2 linked regions of the Homo sapiens genome follow. The protein of the gene in region 2 interacts with the protein of the main gene of each other region in a pairwise test. Each region holds a gene or a part of one and is shown on either strand. Other genes may lie near its edges.

Region 1 (11,604 bases), on a different chromosome or scaffold from region 2:
GTCCACCCCCTCGGAGCCAGACGCCCTCACCCCCGACAGACTCCCCTAGGCACGCCAGCCCTGGAGTATGTCCCCAGCCTGGGCCAATGGTCGGGGAAAGTAGAGTTCTGGCTACCTGAAGGAAGCCGATTGGAAGTCATGGAAAGCAAGCACCTGTGTTGACAGGGCACCTCCCCCTGCCTGGCCCTCACTCCCTGCACTTGGACATGACATTTTGCCATATGACAAAGACTGAAAGTTGTCATACTTCCCCAAGGGCAGGGAGAAGCTCAGCATGGGGCTGCAGGTGCCATCCAAGGCCCTGGAGCTAGGATGGGCAGGCCTCCTGGGGAGCTGGGATGATGACTCTTGTTCTTTGCCCTAGGAGCTGGGCACCACCCCATGGGAGGAGAGCACCAATGACATCTCCCACTACCTCGGCATGCTGGACCCCTGGTATGAGCGCAATGTACTGGGCCTCATGCACCTGCCCCCTGAAGTCCTGTGCCAGGTAAGTGGCCCCGTGGTTGCGGAACAGGGTCCACTGGCTGCAGTCACCCAGCCTCACTTAGAAGGCCCTGGATTTAGGGAATCAGGCTTGAGGCCCCCATGGAGGACCTGGGCCCTCTTGGAAAAGATCAGGGAGTGTGGGTGAGAAGCAGGACTGAGCCTGAACTCAGGACACTGAGTGTGAGAGCTGGGGTCACTGCAGTGATGGAGGAGGGCCCTCAGAAGGGTCCGGGGGACCTCAGATTTCAGCCCCCTTCCTCAACTCCCGCCTTTGTCTGGCTAAGCCAGAAGCCTCCCTGGAGGCCAGTGGGTCAGGTGAGGGGCATGGAGGCTGGGCACCGGCCCTCCCCTGCTTCCTGCTTCCACCTCACCAGCTCCCCCTGACTGGCTGCCTCTATGTCTCTCTTCTCTCTTCCTCCCTAATTCTTGCTCCTTCTTACCATCTATCCACCCACCCATCTGGCTTGGCTGCCCCTTCCCTCTGGCCACAGCAGTCCCTGAAGGCTGAAGCCCAGGCCCTGGAGGGCTCCCCAACCCAGCTGCCCATCCTGGCTGACATGCTACTCTACTACTGCCGCTTTGCCGCCAGACCGGTGCTGCTGCAAGTCTATCAGACCGAGGTAAGGCCTCCCTGCCCCGAACCGCCTCTTCCCCACCTGCCGGGCCTGCAAGGCCCCACCCCTGCCCCGGGAGAGCCAGCAGGTCTATGCTGGAGGAGCCAAATGGGCCCCTCCAGGAGGTTCACACTGATGTACATGCTCCTGCCCTCTCCAGCTGACCTTCATCACTGGGGAGAAGACGACAGAGATCTTCATCCACTCCTTGGAGCTGGGTCACTCCGCTGCCACACGTGCCATCAAGGCGTCAGGTGGGTACTGCCTGAGCAGAGACAGACGGTGAGGCGGGGCCTGGGACGCGAAACGTGGAGCTCTGTGGAGGTGGGGTTACCTGGGAGGTGGGGCCATGGGAAGGTGGGGTTGCACAGGAGGTAGGCCCCTGGGGAGACGGGGTTACCGGGAGGTGGGGCCATGGGGTGGCTGGGTGACCCGGTAGGCGGGGCCCTGGGGAGGCAGGGATACGGGAGGTGGGGCCACGGGAAGGTAGGGTTACCCAGGAGGCAGGGCCATGAGAGGGCGGGGTTACCTAGGAGGCAGGGCCATGGGGAGGCGGGGTTGTCCGGTAGGTGGGGCCTTGGGGAGGCAGGGTTACCGGGAGGCAGGGCCATGGGGAGGCGGAGTTACCCAGGAGGCGGGGCCCTGGGGAGGCGGGGTTACCCAGGAGGTGGGGCCATGGGAGGGCGGGGTTACCCAGGAGGCGGGGCCATGGGAGGGCGGGGTTACCCAGGAGGTGGGGCCATGGGAGGGCGGGGTTACCCAGGAGGTGGGGCCATGGGAGGGCGGGGTTACCTAGGAGGCAGGGCCATGGGGAGGCGGGGCCCTGGGGAGGCGGGGTTACCCAGGAGGTGGGGCCATGGGGGGGCGGGGTTACCTAGGAGGCAGGGCCATGGGGAGGCGGGGTTGTCCGGTAGGTGGGGCCTTGGGGAGGCAGGGTTACCGGGAGGCAGGGCCATGGGAAGATGGAGTTACCCAGGAGGCGGGGCCCTGGGGAGGCGGGGTTACCCAGGAGGTGGGGCCATGGGAGGGCGGGGTTACCCAGGAGGCGAGGCCATGGGGAGGCGGGGTTGCCTGGTAGGTGGGGCCCTGGGGAGGCAGGGGTACCGGGAGGCAGGGCCATGGGAAGGTGGAGTTACCCACGAGGCAGGGCCCTGGGGAGGCGGTGTTACCCAGGAGGCAAGGCCATGGGGAGGCGGGGTTGCCTGGAAGGCAGGGCCCTGGGGAGGCACGGTTACCGGGAGGCAGGACCATGGGAAGGGGGGTTACATGGGAGGTCGGGCCAGGTGGAGGCAGGCTTACCCAGCAGGTGGGCCCTGGGGAGGCAGGGTTACCCAGGAGGTGGGGCCCTGGAGAGGCAGGACCCTGGGAAGGTGTGATCACAGCGGAGATGGGGCCCTGGAGAGGCAGGACCCTGGGAAGGTGTGATCACAGCGGAGATGGGGCCCTGGAGAGGCAGGACCCTGGGAATGTGTGATCACAGCGGAGATGGGCCCTGGAGTGATGGGGTCACTGAGGAGGTGGAGATCCCCAGAACGTGGAGCCAGAGAGAGAGGCAGGGCCTTGGTGAGACAGATCCCTAGGGAGTCACGGTCCATGTGGTAGGGGATGGGGAGGTAAGGCCCAGGGAGGCAAGGCCACTGCGTTCGTGAGGAGCCGGGGAAGCCAGGGGTAGTGAAGGGTCTGTCTGTGTGTGGCACAGGTCCTGGCAGCAAGCGGCTGGGCATCGATGGCGACCGGGAGGCTGTTCCTCTAACACTACAGATTATTTACAGCAAGGTAAGACCCGTGCTGGGGCTCCTTCCCCTCCAGGATCTGCTGCTGATACTTCCTCCGCCAGAGCTTGGACCCAGAGCTGGACTCGTGTGTTCCTGGGCCCCAGTCTTTACGCTGGAAGGCTGCAGCAGGCTCCCCTGGATGCTGAGAGAAGCAGAGAAGGGAAGGAGTGGATATCTCTGTGCTTCTTGGCCTCCAAAGCCTCTCTCCCACCATGTTCTCTGCCCCCACCCGAATGCGCTCAGCAGCAGCCCAGGGGTAGGGGTCTGCTGGGCCTGGCTACAGGGCTGGGGCTGAAAGGGGGAAAGGGAAGCCTTCCAGAGGCACCTCAGGGAGAAGCCAGGGTCTCGGGGGGCCAGTGTGCCTGGCAGGCTGCATGCAAGATGGGATTGGCGTGAGAAAGGAGTGAGGAGAGCTGTGGGGAGGTGGAGGGCTGTCCATGACATGCCAGAAGACATGAGTTCTCTGAGCAGGTCGCATCCCAAGGTCCAGGCTGAGGGAAGCTTGGCCTCACAGGTGGGCTTCTTCCTTCGGCCATTCCAAAGATATCCTCTTAGCACCTGCCCATGCTGCCTCTGTGCTGGGCAGGGGAAAAGAGGGGTTGAGCAGGGAAGCCTAGGCCTCACTTTAGCTTGTCTAGAGGAGGGAGACAGACAAGAAACGAGGAAACAAAGAAATAGCCAAGATAATTCCAGAGAGCGGCAAGTGATGACAAAGCAATAAAACAGCAGATGGACGGTGGTGTTGGGGCTGCAGTGCGTTTGGCAGTGAAGGAGGTGGGCAGGAGGCACCGACACTCACTGTAGCCACATGCCAGGTGCTTGCTAGACGTCTTCCACAGCCCAGGCACTGTTCTAGGCCCTGGAGCCTTCCTAAGAGTGAACAAAGGACAGACGTGGTCCCAGGAGACCTGCTGGCCCCCTGGAGTGGGTGGTAGGCATTGGTTCGATGATGCACACGATGTAAAATTACAACTGTGACACATGGATGAGGAGAGGGACACGGGATGTTCCTAAGTGGCAAACCGAACCCAGTCAGGAGAGTTAGTAGTGAAGGCTTCCTTGAGAAGGCACCTGAGTTAATATTGGAGGGAAAACCAGGAATTAATTAGGCTGAGAAGAGAGGTGAGTGCTCTCACAGCAGCAGAAACTGCATGTGCAAAGGCCCTGTGGTGGGAGGCAGTGTGAACACCTTGAAGCACTCTGAAAGAAGACCCCCAGGCTGGAGCAGAGACAGCTGGTGGGAACATGATGCTGAGGTGAGGCTAAAGAAATGGGGGACCAGCATACCAAGAGCCTTAATTGCAATGAAAGGAGTTTTGTGGTTTTTTGTTTGTTTTTTTGAGACATAGTCTCGCCCTGTTTCTCAGGCTAGAGTGCAATGGCTCAATCTTGGCTCACTGCAACATCCGCCTCCCTGGTTCAAGCAATTCTCCTGCCTCAGCCTCCTGAGTAGCTGGGTAGCAGGTGCCCGCCACCACACCCGGCTAATTTTTTGTATCTTTAGTAGAGACGGGGTTTCACCACGTTGGCCAGGCTGGTCTCGAACTCCTGACCTCATGATCCACCTGCCTTGGCTTCCCAAAGTGCTGGGGTTACAGGCATGAGCCACCACGCCCGACCCAATGAAAGGAATTTTATCCTAGTCCTAAGAGCAGTGGATATCCATTAAGGGGGCTTATGTTTGTGGTGGGGCTGGGAATGCCTGTGACATGATTATATCTGAGGCTTGGAAGCTCCCTCTGGCAGCTCTGTGGAGGACAGATAGGAAGGGTCCACAAGTGATGCAGGAAGGCCAGTTAGGAGGCTGTTGCCATGGTCCAGAAGAGAAATTAGGGCAGCAGCCTGCACTAGGGTAGTGGTGGCAGAGCTGGAAAGGAATGGGAGACAGATGTGAGTGATGTAATCAGCAGGGCCCATGGATGGGTTAGGAAAGGAGAGGCCAGACTCCTGGAGTCACTCCTCTGTGACTGGCAGCACCATCTTCTCTGGGGGGACCACAGGAAGAGGCCGGGGTCCAGTTGGGGAAGAGCTTGAGTTTGGGTCGGGACATATTATTGAGGTTGAGAGGCCTTGAGAGGTATAAGGAGACAGTGAGAATAGACGGCTGGCTGAACGGGCCTGACTTTGTGGTGAATATGAAGATGGGTGGACAGCTGCTAATGGAAAAAGGTCACGGAGGAGACTCCTGAAGGGGGGAAGCAGGGAATACAAAGAGCAGAGGACCAAGGGGAGAACCTTGAGCCCTTCATGATGTAATGGCGGGCAGAGGGCAGCGATCCAGCAAAGCAGAGAGGCACCAGCCAGAGAGGCGCTAGAAAAACCAGGAAGGTGCCATCACGAAAGCCCAGGAGAGGTTTTCAAGGAGGGGAGAGCAGTGAACTGTAAGGTCAAGTAAGCTGAGGACCAAGAAGTGTTCTTCGGTTTAACAACATGGAGGTCCCTGATGACAGAGACATTCACACAAAGACTTGAAGAGGGGGTTCAGGTCTGGCTCTGCCAGAAACAGCATGTCTGTGGGCCCAACCCTTCTTCACTCTGGGCCCGGCAGGAGAGCTTCAGGACCACCCCTGCAGGTGCTCTCAGCTCTTGTACCTTTCAACCTGGTCACAGAGGCTGCTGACCCCTAGACCAAGCCAGTGACGTGAGCTCTTCCCTGGAGTCATCCAGGTCTATCCAGGGTGGTACAGGGGCCCTGGTGAATAAGAGAGGGCTTTCTGGGGATATGCTAACTAGAGGCAACCCCCTGTCACTGATGGGCCTTCAAAGAGAAGGCAGCAGGCACCGGGGCCTCTGGACTCAGAGGGTCTGGCTACACTGCATTTCCAGGGGGCCATCAGTGGACGAAGTCGCTGGAGCAACCTGGAGAAGGTCTGTACCTCCGTGAACCTCAACAAGGCCTGCCGGAAGCAGGAGGAGCTGGGTGAGTGGGGTGGTCAGTGTGGGGTGTGCAGTAGGGAGGTGCTCTGAGCCTGGCCTGAGTGTCCTTGCCCCTCAGATTCCAGCATGGAGGCCCTGACGCTAAACCTGACAGAAGTGGTGAAAAGGCAGAACTCCAAATCCAAGAAGGGCTTTAACCAGGTACGGGCTTCCCTCTCCTTCCAGCCATACCCTCAAGAGACTTACTGGAGCGTGCATGTGCGTATGTGTGTACGTGTGTGTGCACATGTATGTGTGTGCATGTGTGCACATACACACCCGTGTGTACATACTTGTGTGTGTGTGAGAGAGAGAGGAGAGGTGGGGGAGGAGAGGCAGGGTGAGGGGTATGATTTGGGGATGCACACAGGTGTGGAGTGTTGCGGGGTGTCGGGGAGGTAGGGGTGCCCTGTGAGAGGACGCGTGTATGTGGAAAAGTTGTGGGGTGGGTGCCAGGAGAGTCCTAAGACTCTGAGACCAAAGAAAGCAGGCTCTGGATCAGGGGACCTGGGGCTGCTCCGGTGAGGGCAGCAGGCAGGGCAATGTCTCCTCAGGGGGCACTTGCTTCTTCCAGATGCTGGAGAGGAGGCAGGGGCTGATGGAGGCCTCAGGCTCCCTCCTGTGACCTGGCCATTAACCCTGGAGCGCAGTCAGACAAACCCCTGCCCTCCCACACCCCTAGAAGTGGATGGGCAGTTCTGAGAAAAGGAACTGCCAGGGGCTGGCAGTGTTGGATGGCCAGGGATTTGGGGCTGACCTGGGCCTTCCTTCCAGATTAGCACATCGCAGATCAAAGTGGACAAGGTGCAGATCATCGGCTCCAACAGCTGCCCCTTTGCTGTGTGCCTGGACCAGGATGAGAGAAAGATCCTGCAGAGTGTAGTCAGGTAGGAAAGGGGGGTCCTAGGGAGGGGAGCAGTTTCTGCTCCCACCAACCCAGAGGCCTGGAAGGAGCTGGAAGGATGGGGGCCTGCTCTGATCCCTGGCCCCTGCCCTGCTGCACAGATGTGAGGTCTCACCGTGCTACAAGCCAGAGAAGAGCGACCTCTCCTCACCACCCCAGACGCCTCCTGACCTGCCGGCCCAGGCCGCACCTGATCTCTGCTCCCTTCTCTGCCTGCCCATCATGACTTTCAGTGGAGCTCTGCCCTAGTGTGGGCCCAGCGCCAGACTGGACAGAAGCCCTGGGGCAACCTCCTCGGCCACCCCTCCAGGACAGTCCCTCTCTGTGGAGAACTGAATGGCCCTGTGCAGAGCCATAGTCCCACTGTGGGTCCTGCAATGAGCAGGGGCTGGGAGTAGAGGGTTTCTGGGGCCTCAGGGTTCTGGGAAAGCAACAGCTATCAGAGAGAGAAGGGCCAGACCCCATAGCCTCTTAGATTCCTGGCAGTAGAAGGAGAAGGATGGGTAAATTGACCTCTGAAGTCCCTGACCATTAGCATGGTCTAGGATCCTTTCTAGAAGGAAGATCTGAGGCTCTGGTGCTCAGGGGGATGGCTTGGGCCTTTTCTCTCAACCTTGGCTGAGCCTACCCCTTACTTTGCCAAAGACTTGAGGACCCTGTATGTCTGGAGTTCAGTCCCCTCCTCTGTGGGGCTCAGGTGATTGAAATGTGGATGAAACATTTCTCTACTTCAAGACCACCTCTCCCTGCAAACACCACACACACATGGCATGCATGTACGCACATGCGCACACACACACGCACACACCTCAATAATTTCTCTCAAGTTTCCTGAGTCTCCAGAAAAACAGCACTAACGCTGGACCTGTCTACTCTCAGAACCCGGCACAGATTCTCTCTTGATCTCCTTTTGGAATCTGAGATTCTTAGAAGACAGGATAGGGTTAAATTTAGTAGCAGCTCAGTTCTAGCTAAATCACTAGAGGAAGTTAATTAACTTTAAGCCTTCATTTCTCCAGCACTAAAATGGAGTGGAGAGTTGGGGTGGAAATAAGACATCCTTAAAAGGTTAAATTGTCTGCAAAGCACCTAGCCCAGTGCCGAGCTCCCAGTAGGTGTTCAGTAAAGCTTAGTGCCTGACTTTCTGAACACTGATTCCTCCTGTTTGGAGTCACTGGGATACTCTCATTGCCGTTGGGATGTTCCTCACTCCTTCCCAGTTCGTGGCTGAGGCAGAACCCAGACTGAAGAGGGAAGAGACATTCCAGAGGAGGATTGCCTTCGTCAGGGTAAGGGGTGGGCTGCTCAGGGGCCCTACCCTTCACCCCCTTCTGTATCAGATTGGCCCTCCCACTCCCATCTCACTCTGCGTGTACAATCTTCCATATCCGCAAGTTCACTGGCACTCTTCTGGCACCTGGGCAAGATCCCAGAACAGAGGATGGAGTGACTGGCCTCACAGAGCTTAGTGCCCGACTCAGGGGAAATGGGACTGGTGCATGGGAAATGGTCAGCCTAGGATAGGACACGAGAGTCTGAAATTCAAAGCAACCAGCTTGAAGTGGTTTGAGAAGCTGGAAGCAAACATGGGCTAGAGAGATAGGGCAGAAGTCAAGACGAGGATCTGGACTGATGTGGAGAAAGTAGCCACGGAAGCATGAACTGTATCCTGCACAAAGTCCCTCTTCCCCGCCTCCTAATTCATTATGCCCAAAAGGCCTTACGTGAAATTCCAGCCCAGAGTACTCATGACTTGAGAGACGTGGACAGAGCCAGCTTCTACCTTGCCTGGCCGTCTCTCCCCTGTCTTAATGTCTGCTCTTGCTCTAAGCTCCAGAAGAGTGGCGGGCCATGTATCTTCAATATGTTTTTGCTGTATGGGCAGGTTGTCTTATTATGTGATCAACAGATGTCCAGGAACTAATGAGTGGAATTTAATATTATTGTCAAATAAAACTTGATTTGTCCTATATTTAATGACCAGTAGTTACTTTGCTGCATGACCCTGCTAGTTGGACAGTTTATATAAATCATTTTATTTATACCAGAAAGAAGCTTCATAGGGGATTGTTTTATTTCTCTTTTTGTAATTTTCCACCCTATAGAAAATATATTTGGGTGAAAATTTTCCCCAATACTGTTCTGCTTAAGCCTCATCATACTCACTGACCCACAGAACAAAAATTCCTACACCTAAGGACTCAGCATTTGGGGTTTCCTGTGCTACTTCACTTGAGAAATATATACCCATATATCCATCTGTTTCCTGTACCCCAAGCTCCAGGGAGGGGACGGGCCTGAGGCCGTTGCTGCGGATGGGTGGCACAGTGGATCCTGGACCTACCATGCAGCTGAGAGGAGGGGAAGAGAGCTCAATAATGGCCCTTTGGATCTGGGACTGCCTTTAGACTTGGGTGATAAGGAAAGAGAGAAGAAGAAGTGGAGGGATGGTAGAGGACACCTGTGGCTTGGGAGAGGGAGGTAAGTACCAGGTTGCCAGAACACTATTCAGGATGGAGGGAGAAAGAACTGTGAGCTGTTCCAGCTCTGCATCAGCTGGCTATTGCAAACAATGAAGCATACCTTCAATTCAGGGAACTAAGTCTCCGATCATTTGTTCTTGCTCATGCATCTGGAGGACATCTAGGGACCACCTGATCTAGGCTGGGCTCAGAGTGGCTTGGCTCCAAGCTGCAGGATGGGTGCAGATCTGCTTCGTTGGTCTTTCAGACACATTGGACCAGCATGAGAGGCAAGCAGAGACACGCGATGCCTCCTAGGAATGGAACCTGGAACAAGAACAATATTCCTTCTGCCAATAATTGGCTAACACTGATGAAGCACATCAACCCACAGACTTAATAAACCCAGCAAATTTTGCACAGGAATTTTGACACAGGAATCTCCACACAAGAAAAAAACAAAATCACATGAGAAGTGCACTTTACCTTTGATGTTCTTTCCATAACTCCAGTCTAATCAAGAGTAAAAAAGATCATATAAACCCAGACTATGGGACCAGATAACCTGACCAGTACTCTCTTACTGTCACAAAAAATAAGGAAAGACTGAGAAACAAAAAGAGATGGAGTAAACCTGAAAAATAAGCAGTAGACACTGGCTTGTATCCTGAAACATTAATCCAAAAACTGGTAAAATCCCAATACAATCTGGAGTTCAGTTTTTTCTTAAACACACACACACACATACACACACACACACACACCCCTTACTGTCAAACTTCTAAAGAAAAAAAGGTAATAAGAAAATACTAAAGACAGAGGAAAATAATACACTTTATCTTCAAAGTAGCAACAATTAAACTGAGAACTCTCTCTTTCAATAGAAACAATGGAAGCCAGAGATGATGAAATGATATCTTTAAAGTATGAGGGGAAAAAACAAACCTACTAACCTGGAATCACACACCCAGAATTGTCTGATAATACTTTTTTAAAAAAAACTTATAAACTGCAGCGGTCGGGCGCAGTGGCTCACACCTGTAATCCCAGCACTTTGGGAGGCCGAGGCAGGCAGATTACGAGTTCAGGAGATCGAGACCATCCTGGGTAACACGGTGAAACCCCGTTTCTACTAAAAATACAAAAAATTAGCCGGGTGCGGTGGCGGGCACCTGTAGTCCCAGCTACTCAGGAGGCTGAGGCAGGAGAATGGCCTGAACCCGGGAGGCGGAGCTTGCAGTGAGCCGAGATCGCACCACTGCACTCCAGCCTGGGTGACAGAGCGAGACTCCATCTCAAAAACAAAACAAAACAAAACAAAAAACTTATAAACTGCTCACAAGGGACACACTTTAAATATAACATCACAGAAAGGTTGAAAGCAAAAGGATGGAAAGAATCACACCATGCAAAACCAACCAGATCAAAAAAGCTGGTGTTAACACACTAATATCCAAAGATGCAAAACCGGACCAAAAAAGCTGGTGTCAATACACTAATATCCAAAGATTTAACAGCAGAAGCATTACAAAAAATAAAGAGGAACATTTCATAAAGATTAAGGAGTCCAACAAAAGGTATTACAGTTATAAAGCTATATACACCAAATAACAACTGAAAATTATATATAAATATAAATACATGTCACTATATAAATATAAACTGTATATAAATATAAATATAAAACAAAAATGGACAGAACTAGAAGTCTCCACAACCACAGTGGTCAACATATCTCTCCCAATAGCTGATAGAACACATAGACAAAAAATTTTAATAGAGATATACAAGATCTGGACAACACAATTAACAAATTTGATGTTACTGAAATTGATAGAACATTGTGGCCCATTCTCAGCTCACTGCAAACTCCGCCTCCCGGGTTCAAAGGATTCTCCTGCCTCAGCCTCCCAAGTAGCTGGGACTACAGGCGCATGCCACCACACCCAGCTAATTTTTTTTATTTTTTTAGTAGAGACAGGGTTTCACCATGTTGTCCAGGCTGGTCTCGAACTCCTGACCTCAGGTGATCCACCCACCTCGGCCTCCCAAAGTGCTGGGATTACATGCATGAGCCACCACGCCCAGACAGAAGATTCTTTAAACCATACTTCACAAAAATCACTGGCTGACCTAAGAATGGATCCCCTATTGGTCAGACACATACCCTGGATACTATCACCATGAGCTGTAGGCGAATCCATGGGCCAAGTGGTTATAGGCTAAAGGGGCTCTGAGCCAGAATGTCTCATCCAGTCCATGAGCTTTTGTAATCCGAGTCATTGAACACTGAGGAAAGGGGCCGAGGTAGGGGACTGAAACTAGAATCCCCATTGGGTCCTGCTGTTGGCAGATGAAGAGAAAGGAGGAGGCTGTCCTTTTCAGCACCCCATCCTCCTCCTCAAGGTGGCCCCTCCTCCGCATGGTACCTCACCAAGAGCTCA
Region 2 (11,604 bases):
GTGCTTAATTATACACACTGGGTATCATCTCCTAATTATTTCACATTGCTCAATAGCTTCCTACCCAGCTTATAATTTGGTGAAGGCAGGGACTGTATCATATAACTCTTATCTGTCTTCATGGCACCTACCCATGCTGGACTTGCTGTCTCTGAGTAAAGGAATGATTTAACAGACCTGTCTACAGATAGTATTTGTCCCACTTAATGATTCTTTGAACTTACACAGCGCTCTCAGCAGCCTGAGATCAGCAGGCTGAAACGAGTTAATCACATGACCATAGGCCTGCTCTAGCAGTGTTACTTAGAGGACCTCTACATCCCCAACTCGGAGCAGCTGGCAAAAGTGACAAGTATGAGTGTACTTCATTATCCAATCTTCACATGGCTGGGAATCAATATTGCTCATGTGGTCACACAAACCTGTAACTTCTCTTTTTGTGGGAAAATGAGAAAGAGAAGTTGGTTTTTGAGTTGCCTAGAGTCTGTGAAAAGCACGTATCTAAAAAAGCACAAGCTTTCTGGGAACAAAGACAGTGACTTTCTTTGCAGTGAACATCAATACTATTTTCTTTCTAAGCAACCCCTAAATCCAGGCTTTCATTAGCTGGGAAACAGCTTCCAATCTCATAGCTGGGCAGCTGCCCTTCAAAGACACTGCTTTCTCCCCTGCTTGCTCGCTACAAGTCTTATGTTACAAATCCTATGAGAGGGAGAGGGGGAGCCTCTGACCACCAGGCAAACGGAAATACATTTTAAACATCTGCAAGGCATGGTTTGCACCCCTTTGGGGTGACCCTCACTGCACTGAAACAAAGGCAATTTGCAGACAAGGCCCCAGATTTACCGAAAGCAAGTGAATACAATGCAACCAATTACCCTGTTTGGACTGGATGGCAATGAAGGAAACCAGGCCCCTCAGAATGGCTGGCTTACAGCAATCTATTGTCCTCTTGGACTTCTGGATGCTTGAGTTTCAATTTCTCTTAAAGCAATTAAGGAGCACCTCACCTGCATAAGAACTGCAGGCCCCAGATATTTGTCTCCGTTCCACCAGTAGCTGGGGCAGCTGGTGCTACAGCAGGCACAGAGAATGCACTCGTAGAGCCCGTCCTGTATGGGGAGAAAAGAGAGGCAGGAGCTTGTGACGGGAGAGACTCTGCTATGTCTTCAGCTGATTAAATGTTACCTTTGGGGTCAGTGCATGAACAAAGTGCCTACTTGCATGTGAATTTTCTTAGCAAAATCCAAGGGGTGATTTGCAGATATTTAGCAGATTAATAAAGATCTTGCAAGTGAAATGTAAACATCTGCCCAGGGTTCTTAAATCCACGTATAGTGCACTTTCCCTTTAATAAACAAGAACCTCTCACTTGTCTAAAAAAGAAATAGAAAACAAGAACACAAAAACAACTCCCATAAATTCCAGCTTCCTGGAATGAGGTCAAGACGGGAGAGATTCAAAAGCCTAGGGGCTGAAGCAGCAAGAGTCTGTAGCTGCTTCTGCCCTGGGCTCAGCAGAAGGGCCCTCAGGTTTTCACTGGGAACATCAACATCATCCCCAGTGACTGCCACTGCCAATCCTGACGGAGGCCCTGCGCCTTACACGCTTTCCTTAACTGATCATCACAGTAATCCTGTGAGGTGACTCCAGCAAGTTCCACTTACAGGTAAGGAACCAAGGCGAGGAGAGTGAGTTAGGCCATGTGCCCAGGGACGTGCCACTATAGGCAGCAGAACCAGGATGTGGCCCCGGCAGCTGGCTCTGGCTTCCTGCACTTTCACACCTGCCACACTGGGTCAATCTGCCCAACAAGTCCCAAACACAAACCGGACTTTCTGAGTTTGGAAACAACAGAAATGGATTAAAAACAGCAAAATGAAAGGGGCCCACTGACACCTGAAGTGACAGTTGAGAACAGATGAGACAGAACTGATGGTTGTGATTGAACCATGAGTCTTCAACCAAATCTATGTTATGTCCAGACAGCTGGTGGGAGTGTCAACTGGCCCCACTGGTCTAGAAGGCATAAGGTCACAGGATTAAGAGCCTTAAGAATAGTCATATTCTTTAACCCACTCCTAGAAAAATCTGTAATAAGAAATTAGAATGTTTTGGGCAGAACTTGAAGGATAAAGATGTTCATCTAGCCTTATTTCTAACAGTAAAAAATTGGAAACAATTTCATTGTCCAGCAACAGTGAAATGGTTTTATGGCGCATGGTGCATACATCTGAAGCAGTAGAAAGCAAAGTGTAAGTTAATGCTTATGAACAATTTTAAGAATATGAAGAAAATGCTCACAATAACATAAGTGAAAAAAGCAGGATATAAAAGCATATTTACATTTTGATCCCAGCTACATAAAAATATAATGTAATAAACAAAAAACAAAGGAAACTATAAATATTAACAGAGATTATGTTTTGGTGGTGGAATTATAAATTCTTTTTTTTTTTTTTTTTGAGACAGGGTCTTGCTGTGTGCCCCTGGCTGGAGTGCAGTGGCACAATCACAGTTCACTGCAGCCTGGAACTCTTGTGCTCAAGCAATCCTCCCATCTCAGCCTCCTGAGTAGCTGGGACTATAGGTGCATACCACCATGCCTGGCTAAGTTTTAAAGTTTTTGTAGAGACAGGGTCGCCCTATGTTCCCCAGGCTGAAAATTATAGCTTATTTAAAAAATGATGGAGCCTCTCTGAACCTATTTTGGTTTGGGGGCTGCCCAATTAAAAATAAATACATACATAAATTTCTCCACATTTTCCAATTATTTATTAAGTTCAGCATACTAATTTAAGGAAGCCAAAAAATGTTAAATGTTTGGTATGTAAATGAGTAAATGAGTAAATTTCTATTACAGGTTGGGCATCCCAAATCTGAAAATCTGAAATCCAAAATGTTCCAAAATCTGAAACTTTTTGAGCACCAATATGCTGCTCAAAGGAAATGTTCACTGGAGCATGGATTTCAGATTTCGGATTTGGGGTGCTCAACTAGTAAGTGTAAGGCAAATATTCCAAAATCTGAAAACATATGAAACCCCAAACACTGAAACCCAAGCATTTAGGATAAGGAATACTCAACTTGTATCTAGAAAACCAAACATGCTCAGGGGAACTCTTCAATCCCTAATAATACCACATCAGGGAGATGTTCACTAGCTACGCACCAGCCTTGCCTAGGAATGCAAAGGACTCGCTGGGCCAGAGGGCCCGGTTCAGCCTGGACTCTGGGATGCACAAGACTCTGGGAGGTAGAAACTGAGGAGCAGAGCTGCAGTCTGAGAAGAGCAGCTCTGAAGTCTCATCCCAGGCTTACTCTGACTTGCAGGCCACTGTGCTGACCCTCACTATCTTGATGGTGACAGACTGGGCACACTTACTAGGACTCCCCTTTTTCTCTTTTCTTTTTTTCTTTGAGACGGAGTCTTGCTCTGTTGCCCAGGCTGAAGTACAGTGGCACAACCTTGGCTCACTGAAACCTCCACCTCCCGGGTTCAAGAGATTCTCCTGCCTTGGCCTCCTGAGTAGCTGGGATTATAGGTGTGAGCCACCACACTCAGCTAATTTTTGTATTTTCAGTAAAGATGGGGTTTTATCACGTTGGCCAGGCTGGTCTCGAACAACTGACCTCAAGTGATCCGCCCACCTCGGCCTCCCTAAGTGCTGGGATTACAGATGAGCCACTGCACCTGGCCGGACTCCCCTTTCTTAACGTTTTATGGGCAACAGGAGAGGATGCTAAATATTTACCAAGTCTCAAAAGGTAGAATTAATTTATTCATTCATACAACTGATACTTTTCATATATTCACATATATGTATATGTTTTAGAGACAAAACCTGGGCTATGTTGCCCGGGCTGGCCTCAAACTCTCAGACTCTCAAACTCCTGGGCTCAGGTGATCCTCCTACCTCAGCCTCCTGAGTAGCTGGGACTATCAGAATGCACCACTGCATCTGGCCTTTTAAAAAATTTATATATATTTTTACAGTATTTACATAACTAATATTTATGGATAAAATAACATGCGCCAGGGCCTAGGGATCCAGAAAGGAAGAAGACACAGCCATTGCCCTTGGCCCTGTGCAGACCTGCAGGTGGGGCTCTGTCTCCATTTGGTCCCCTTCCTACCTCACGTCCACAAGTATGCAGGGAGTATGCAAATCAGAGAAGACTTCTTCGCAGAGGAGTAGAAGTAGTGTAGAAGAAGAAAGACTGAAAACTTGATAATGATGCCTCCGCTTTAAGATTTTACAGCTTGTACACAGGAATGGCAACTCCCAGAGAGTGAGCAGGCCAGGAATAATCCCACCCCACAGATCACCAGAAGTATGGTGTCAGGAAAGAATATCGATGACTCTGTTTTGCCATTAACATTTCACTCCCATTTGTAAAGCAGGACGGTGGTAGTTACAACTGGCCAGCATATGTGTTTCATTTTGCCCCCAGTGAGGGAACAGTTCTGACTTAGTGGTCACTTTTTAAAGCCCAGGCAATTTACATACTGGTTTCTTTTGAAAAAGATGGAGTAGCCACACAGCAACCACCCGCCCCTGCAGGCGGGGCACAGGGCTCTAGCTCCTTGGTCCACTCTGGGCCATTCACGGGTTCACACTACTCACCCGGCCCTAAGAGGATGAGTGCCCCACCCTTGTGCCAGTTCCTCTCCAGAATACACTAAATGGCTTGCATCAGCTTATGTTCCCTGCCAAGCCACACTCCTGGCAATCATCTTTGCAATAAATTCTTCAGATTGAAACAATAAATAGGGACTAATGACCAGTTTCTCACGCTCTTCTATGGACTGCAGATACTGCTGCTTGCCTTCCTGAGATTCATCCTTCTTCTTCAAATAAGGCTCAATGGATTTGTACTGTGCATAGAAGTTGCTCAAATCCTGTGGTTAAGAGGAAGAAGAAGAAGAAGAAGAAGAAAAGGATCAGATTCCATCATCACCTCAGCTTTATTTACCCCATTTCTTGGACACTGACTACTCGTCCACTCTATGCCAGGCAGAAGCCAGACTCTTTTCCTTTGTCATGAATATATGCAAAGATTACAAAAGGAAAAATGGTCACAATGTTAAGCATGGTTAGGAAACCTCTCCCTCACCTACTTGGGAAACCTGCCAATCCCACAGTCCTTTCTGCCCTTGAAAACACCACGTCAGCAAAGGTGTTCAAATATAGGGAGGTAGAAATTAAAGTGGGACTCATAAACAGCTGTTGCTTTCCCAACTGGCATTTTCCACATGATTTCTTTGTAGTTATGGCCAAATTATTCATTTCTGGGAATGTTCCAATTCTAAAATTCTGTGCCCCATTATTCTCAAACAAACCTCACCAAATGAGCTGCTGGAGGATTTTCTAGGCGTTTATCTTCTGCCATTCAAATTCTTTAATTAAACTCTGGCCACACTGTCTCAGATCTGGAGATTTTCCTAATCTCTCAGTGACACTGTGGTCCTCCTCCTGCCATAATATAGGAAACAGTCCCATCTATTTACTATCTGACTAGAAGAGGAGCCTTAAATACTCAAACAAATCCTGCCCTGAAAAACTAATAGCGTAACACACATAGCACTGCCCCCCATGCAAATAAAAACAAAACCAGAGAGATGCAGAAACTCACGGGAACAAGATCCTTTATCACATACATGTGTGGAAGAGGGTAGATTTTTGAGACCTTATTGAGGTTGGTGTCAATCCTTCGGGTGCAAGCTAGAGTGTTGCCTCCATTGATGTTCATTGCACAAGAGCCACAGATGCCTGAAAGAGACACACATTTAACACATCCTCACCCATATCCGGAATCAGTCCTGCCCCAAATACTTTCTTCTGGATCCTCCTTGCTGTGCCATCAGGGGCAGCACTGACATGCAACATTCCTCTGACAGAGGTGCCTGTTGGCTTTTCTCCCTTCCTTCCTTCTTCCTGCCTCGAATGTGGTTCTAATGGCTTGAGTTCCAAAAACTACTCTATGACCATGTGGCAACCTTGAGGTTAGAAGCCACATGCCAAGTATGGCACTGGAGGAGGCCAGAGGCCTGGGCGCTGCTGGCACCATGGAGTTTCCACAGCAGTTCTAGCTCCATGTGTCACGTGTTTTGAAGAAAAATCAGCCTGTTTTTTTTTTTTTTTTTTTTTTTTTTTTTAAAGAAAGGGTCTCACTCTGTCACCCAGGCTGGAGTGCAGTGGTGCAATCACAGCTCACTGCAGTCCTCAATGCCTGAGCTCAAGTGATCCTCCCACCTCAGCCTCCTAAGTAGCTGGGACTACAGAAGTAGCCCACCACACCCAGCTAATTTTCTGGTATTTTTTGTAGAGACGAGACTTGCAGAGACAGGGTTTTGTTATGTTGCCCAGGCTGGGCTTGAACTGCTGGGCTCAAGTAATCTGCCTGCCTTGGCCTCCCGAAGCACTGGGATTACAGGTCTGGGCCACCACACACCCGTCAAGCCTATTTTTTTTTTTTTTCTTTGAGAAGGAGTTTTGCTCTTGTTGCCCAGGCTGGAGTGCAATGCCGCGATCTTGGCTCACTGCAACCTCCGCCTCCCCAGTTCAAGTGATTCTCCTGCCTCAGCCTCCTGAGTAGGGGTGGGTGTGGTGGCTCACGCCTGGAAACCTAGATTTTTTAAAGCCACTGTTATTTGAACACAAATCTAACAGACACAATACCCAAAAGTAAAGTAAATCAACATTGTCTTGGTCATCTTAAGGTTGAAGTGACCTGGATACAGATTATTAAGAGATAGCTCTTCTTCTTTTTTTTTCTTGGCTGAGTCTTGCTGTGTCACCCAGGCTGAAGTACAGTGGTGGAGTCATAGCTCACTGTAGCTCACTTTAGCCTCAAACTTCTGGGCTCAAGCGATCCTCCCACCACAGCCTCCTGAGTAGTTGGGACTACAGGCACATGCCGCCATGTGCGGCGAATTCAAAAAAATTCTTTGTAGGTTGGGTGAAGTGGCTCACACCTGGAATCCCAGCACTTTGGGAGGCTGAGGTGGGCAGATCACTTGAGGTCAGGAGTTCGAGACCAGTTTGGCCAACATGGTAACCCCCTGTCTCTACTAAAAATATAAGTCGTGGTGGGTGCCTGTAATCCCAGCTACTCAGGAGGGTGAGGCGGGAGAATCATTTGAACTGAGGAGGAGAAGGTTGCAGTGAGCAGAGATCGCGCCACTGCACTCCAGCCTGGGTGACAGAGCAAGATTCCATCTCAAAAAAAAGAAAAAAATAATTGTTTTTTGTAGAGCAGGTGTCTCACTATATTGCCCAGGCTGGTCTCTAACTCACGGCCTCAAGTAATCCTTCTGCCTTTGCCTCCCACTGTGTTGGGATTACAGGCCTGAGCCACTACACTTGACAGAGGTAAGGCTTCTTCTATTGTCTTCATAAAATACGCAGCATAGTACCCTGGGGCTATGAAATCCACAAAAGCTGACTCAGCATGGACTTTCCAAAGAGGAGAAGAATGAACTAATATGAAACTGAGGCAAAGCAAAGCAAACTAAACAAAAAACGTGCTGACCCAGGACCCCGACATGAGAATTTTCTTAGCCTGGACCTACTTCCTGTATATGGAAATTTCCTGGGTGTTTTGGAATTTAAAAATGATTATGTACTCTAAACCTCTAGTGCCAGTCCTCTGAAGCTGTTTTTTGAAGATCATTAGGTCAGAGAAACCTGATTGCTTGAGAAAGTTGCACTGGTTATCATCTTTTTTTTTTTTTAGATGGAGTCTTGCTCTGTCGCCCAGGCTGGAGTGCAGTGGCACGATCTCGGCTTACTGCAACCTCTGCCTCCCGGGTTCAAGTGATTCTCCTGCCTCAGCCTCCTGAGTAGCTGGGATTATAGACGCCCGCCACCACACCTGGCTAATTTTTGTATTTTTAGTAGAGACGGGGTTTTACCACGTTGGTCAGGCTGGTCTCGAACTCTGACCTTGTGATCTGCCCGCCTCGGCCTCTGAATGCCTGGCCTCACCTTTTTTTTTTTTTTTTTTAATGGAAAGGGAGTCTATGTTTCCCAGGCTGGTCTTAAACTCCTAGCCTCAAGCTAGCCTACCACCTAGACCTCCCAAAGTACTGGGATCACAGGCGTGAGCCACTGCGCCCAGTCGGTTATCACTTTCATAAGACTAGAAAAGACAGTAAGACTCTCCTTCTCCTGTAAATCTTAGAAAGAGTGTAAGGGAACCCAAAGATGTGTCTTAAGCAAATACTCCTAGAGTTCCCCAAGAGACTGGATATTATCAATACATTTATGTATACCTGGCATCCAACTAGAGCAGTTTGCTTTTACAAGAAATGGCATAAAAATTAAAAAAATAAATCCAATGAACTTTCTCTCAAAAAGGCTCCCTGGGAATTCTCTTACAAGATGGGAATTAAAAAAAAAATAAGAAAAACAAGATGGGAATAAAAAGGAGTAGCAATTGATACAATTCTGCTTTATTTTTTTTAGTCCAGATGGGTCACACCTTATGTTCTTGGTTCTGAAAGAGTCCTACAGGGAAAGGTTACTGAAAAGCATCTACCTTTCCTGTGTTGCCAGGACTTAATGGGGAAGGCTGCTGTTTAACTGCCGCAGAATGTTCCCTGAACAGCAGGACTCAGCCGAACTATCATAATATCCATCAGCATTTGCAACGCTAAATAAGATTAGCTGAATCAAAACAGATGTCTTAAAAGACTTGAAATGCTTGAAATGTACAGCTGAACAGATAAAAAGCCATGGGCCGGTATCAATACTGGCTTTTCCTTTTTTTTTAAGGTTTTCTTAGAAAAAAGCTCAGTGTCCTCACAGAATCAAGCTACTCTCTGCTTTTGTTTTATCCCAGGTGTTCCAAGCCAAGTCAGTGCCTGAGAGAGCAGATCTGGAGTCTGGAGTCTGACAGCTTTGGCTGACTCCCGGCTCTCAAGTCACTCTCTATGTGTCCTTGTGGAAGTCCATTACCCTCTCTGGGCCTCACCTTTAAATTGAAGGTAGATAATAAGCACAGTCATCTACCTCATGTCCAGTGCACAGAACAGAGCCGGGCACACAGTCTGGCTCCACGGACATCAGGCCAGTCGGTCTTCACTGCACCCTGTGCAATTTTTGCTATACCTGAGAACCACCTGAATCAACTTTCTTTAAAGTATCTCTTGGGTTTTCTTTAACTTGTTTTGCTTAAATTCACATTAAAAAACCACTTATATCCCTATTATACCATCATTAGTAATTATATTTTTCTTTTTTTTTTTTTTGAGACTGTCTCGCTCTATTGCCCAGGCTGGAGTGCAGTGGCGTGATCTTGGCTCACTGCAAACTCCACCTCCCGGGTTCCTGCCTCAGCCTCCCGAGTAGCCAGGATTACAGGCGTCCGCTATCACGCCCGGCTAATTTTTGTATTTTTAGTAGAGACAAGGTTTCACCATGTTGGCCAGGTTGATCTCGAACTCCTGACGCCAGCTGATCCACCCGCCTCGGCCTCCCAAAGTGCTGGGATTACAGGTGTGAGCCACCGCACCCGGCAGTAATTATATTTTTCTAATACAGAAAATGAATACATTGCTATTCATGTAGAAAATGTTAGTCTGCACACTGCCTCAAATGGGCTCATGTGGCACCAGCAGCACAAGTAACCACATGCTGAGGGAGACACTGTACCAGCCAATCCAGAACACAGCTACCAAGGACATGTCATGCTGGGAGCTGAGGGAGACTCACACATCTCCCCTGCTGGACAAGCATAAGTGCCAGACAGAAACTCTCCACTGCTCCCTTAATAAAAGAGCTCAGCAGCATGGAAGGTGCCAGCCAGCAGGTCCTAGCTAGGCCTTGAAGCGTGGAGCAGCTCACAGGGACCGCCAGATGCAGTAACCACAGGATAGAATGCTCCTGAAGGAAAGTAAACTCAGAAACCAGAACTTGCACCATGGTTAGAATTTTGGATGCATTTACCCAAGAAAAGGAATTAGGTTGCACAGCAAGTTCACCCAGCAGAGAGCTGCAGCTGTTTTCCAGATGTCTCTATCAGCTTTGGCCAGCCCAAGCCTCTTTGGAAGACCACAAGTATCTGGAGCCCAACAGGAATGAAATGCTCACCTTCTCTGCATGATCTTCGGAAGGTCAAAGTAGAGTCAACTTCATTCTTAATCTTGATTAAAGCATCCAATACCATGGGGCCACATCTAACAAAGAAAAATATCCAGTGGTATTTATGTAACGTTCAACCTCCCTACACTTTATCATAATATAATCGGAGACACCTGGATGTATTAGCTTATCCATTTGGTCTTCTCAGGTCACCTTCGGAATTTGTTCTGTAGTTTTGTTTTTGCAGATTCTTACATTTTAAGTACTGCACAGTTCTATTTTGATGATCACAGTGCAAACACATTTCTAGGAAATGGAAAGCTAAAGTAGTAGTAGACAAGTATGACACAACTTCCATACAGTGGCCGAGTTTTTGTTTTTTACTTCTGAAGCTCCCTGCAAAGTTTTTCCAAATAATTTATTTCAAATTTTAGTTTGATTTTTAGGATGTAGACAATAGTTTTAAATAGTAATTAATAATACATAACCATAAGAGAAGACATAGTACAGAGAATAAAAGACACCCAATCACTCACAGTCCCCCAGTCAAATCACTGTGAGCCTCCTAGAACATACAAGGGCAGTGACATGGTACTAAGCGGAGCATCCCTGGGCGTGGGACCTGGAGTGCCGGCCTGGCAGCCAAGAGACTGGTCTGCACCATGGCTGAGCCACTTACCAGCTTGCAGGCAAATGATTTAATTTCTGCCTAGGCATTTAATCCACTGAGTGCAGAGAGCAGCACCTGCATCCCACAGGATTGCTGGAGGTGAGTTAATACACACGAGATCTTTACAGCAGCATCTGACATATAAATCATAGTTTAACTATAATAATCATCATGCAGAAACTGTGATTCTACGGAAATTACTCTCTGAACCTCAGTTTATCTGTAGAGTTAATATTTACACCACAGGGTTACTGTGAAAATTACATAAAAATATGTAATTTTTCATAGTACCTGGCATACAGTAAGTGCTCCACAAATCTATTTTCTGGTTGCCACCCTGCCCCCATTCCACTCACTAATTTTCTATGCATGAGATTAAAAATATACTTAAAAATACGTCATTTCCTTTAGTACTATCTGTATTTCATTTTTTTTCTTTTTTTTCTTGAGACGGGGTCTTGCTCTGTTACCCAGGCTGGAGTGCAGTGGCACGATCTCAGATCTGTAACCTCCGCATCCCAGCCTCAAGAGATCCTCCTGCCTCAGCCCCCCAGTAGCTGGGACTACAGGTATGTGCCACCACATCCAGCTTAATTTTTGTATTTTTTTGTAGAGGTGGGATTTCGCCATGTTGCCCAGGCTGGTCTCTAACTCCTGGACTCAAGTGATCCTCCTGCCTTGGATTCTCAAAGTGTTGGGATTATGGGTGTGAGGCAATGGTGCGATCTCGGCTCACTGCAACCTCTACCTTCCGGGTTCAAGCGATTCTCCTGCCTCAGCCTCCCGAGTAGCTGGGATTACAGGTGCATGCCACCACACCCGGCAAATTTTTGTATTTTTAGTAGA

What was found.
Region 1: the proteins of SDHB (region 2) and PIK3R5 interact in a two-hybrid assay, tested with the Homo sapiens proteins (one study listed by BioGRID and IntAct).

Annotation. Positions count from the first base shown.
Region 1 is NC_000017.11:8,875,982-8,887,585, reverse strand, and holds the end of PIK3R5 (phosphoinositide 3-kinase regulatory subunit 5), read left to right. Parts: coding exon 1-65; intron 66-364; coding exon 365-490; intron 491-980; coding exon 981-1,109; intron 1,110-1,263; coding exon 1,264-1,357; exon of another isoform or gene 1,358-1,368; intron 1,369-2,402; exon of another isoform or gene 2,403-2,802; coding exon 2,803-2,879; exon of another isoform or gene 2,880-3,020; intron 3,021-5,704; coding exon 5,705-5,798; intron 5,799-5,873; coding exon 5,874-5,956; intron 5,957-6,568; coding exon 6,569-6,681; intron 6,682-6,799; coding exon 6,800-6,947; 3' UTR 6,948-8,670; downstream 8,671-11,604. UniProt on the Homo sapiens protein: Regulatory subunit of the PI3K gamma complex. Required for recruitment of the catalytic subunit to the plasma membrane via interaction with beta-gamma G protein dimers. Required for G protein-mediated activation of PIK3CG.
Region 2 is NC_000001.11:17,022,963-17,034,566, forward strand, and holds part of SDHB (succinate dehydrogenase [ubiquinone] iron-sulfur subunit, mitochondrial isoform 1 precursor), read right to left. Parts: intron 10,184-11,604; coding exon 10,098-10,183; intron 5,775-10,097; coding exon 5,638-5,774; intron 4,904-5,637; coding exon 4,787-4,903; intron 1,113-4,786; coding exon 1,011-1,112; intron 1-1,010. UniProt on the Homo sapiens protein: Iron-sulfur protein (IP) subunit of the succinate dehydrogenase complex (mitochondrial respiratory chain complex II), responsible for transferring electrons from succinate to ubiquinone (coenzyme Q).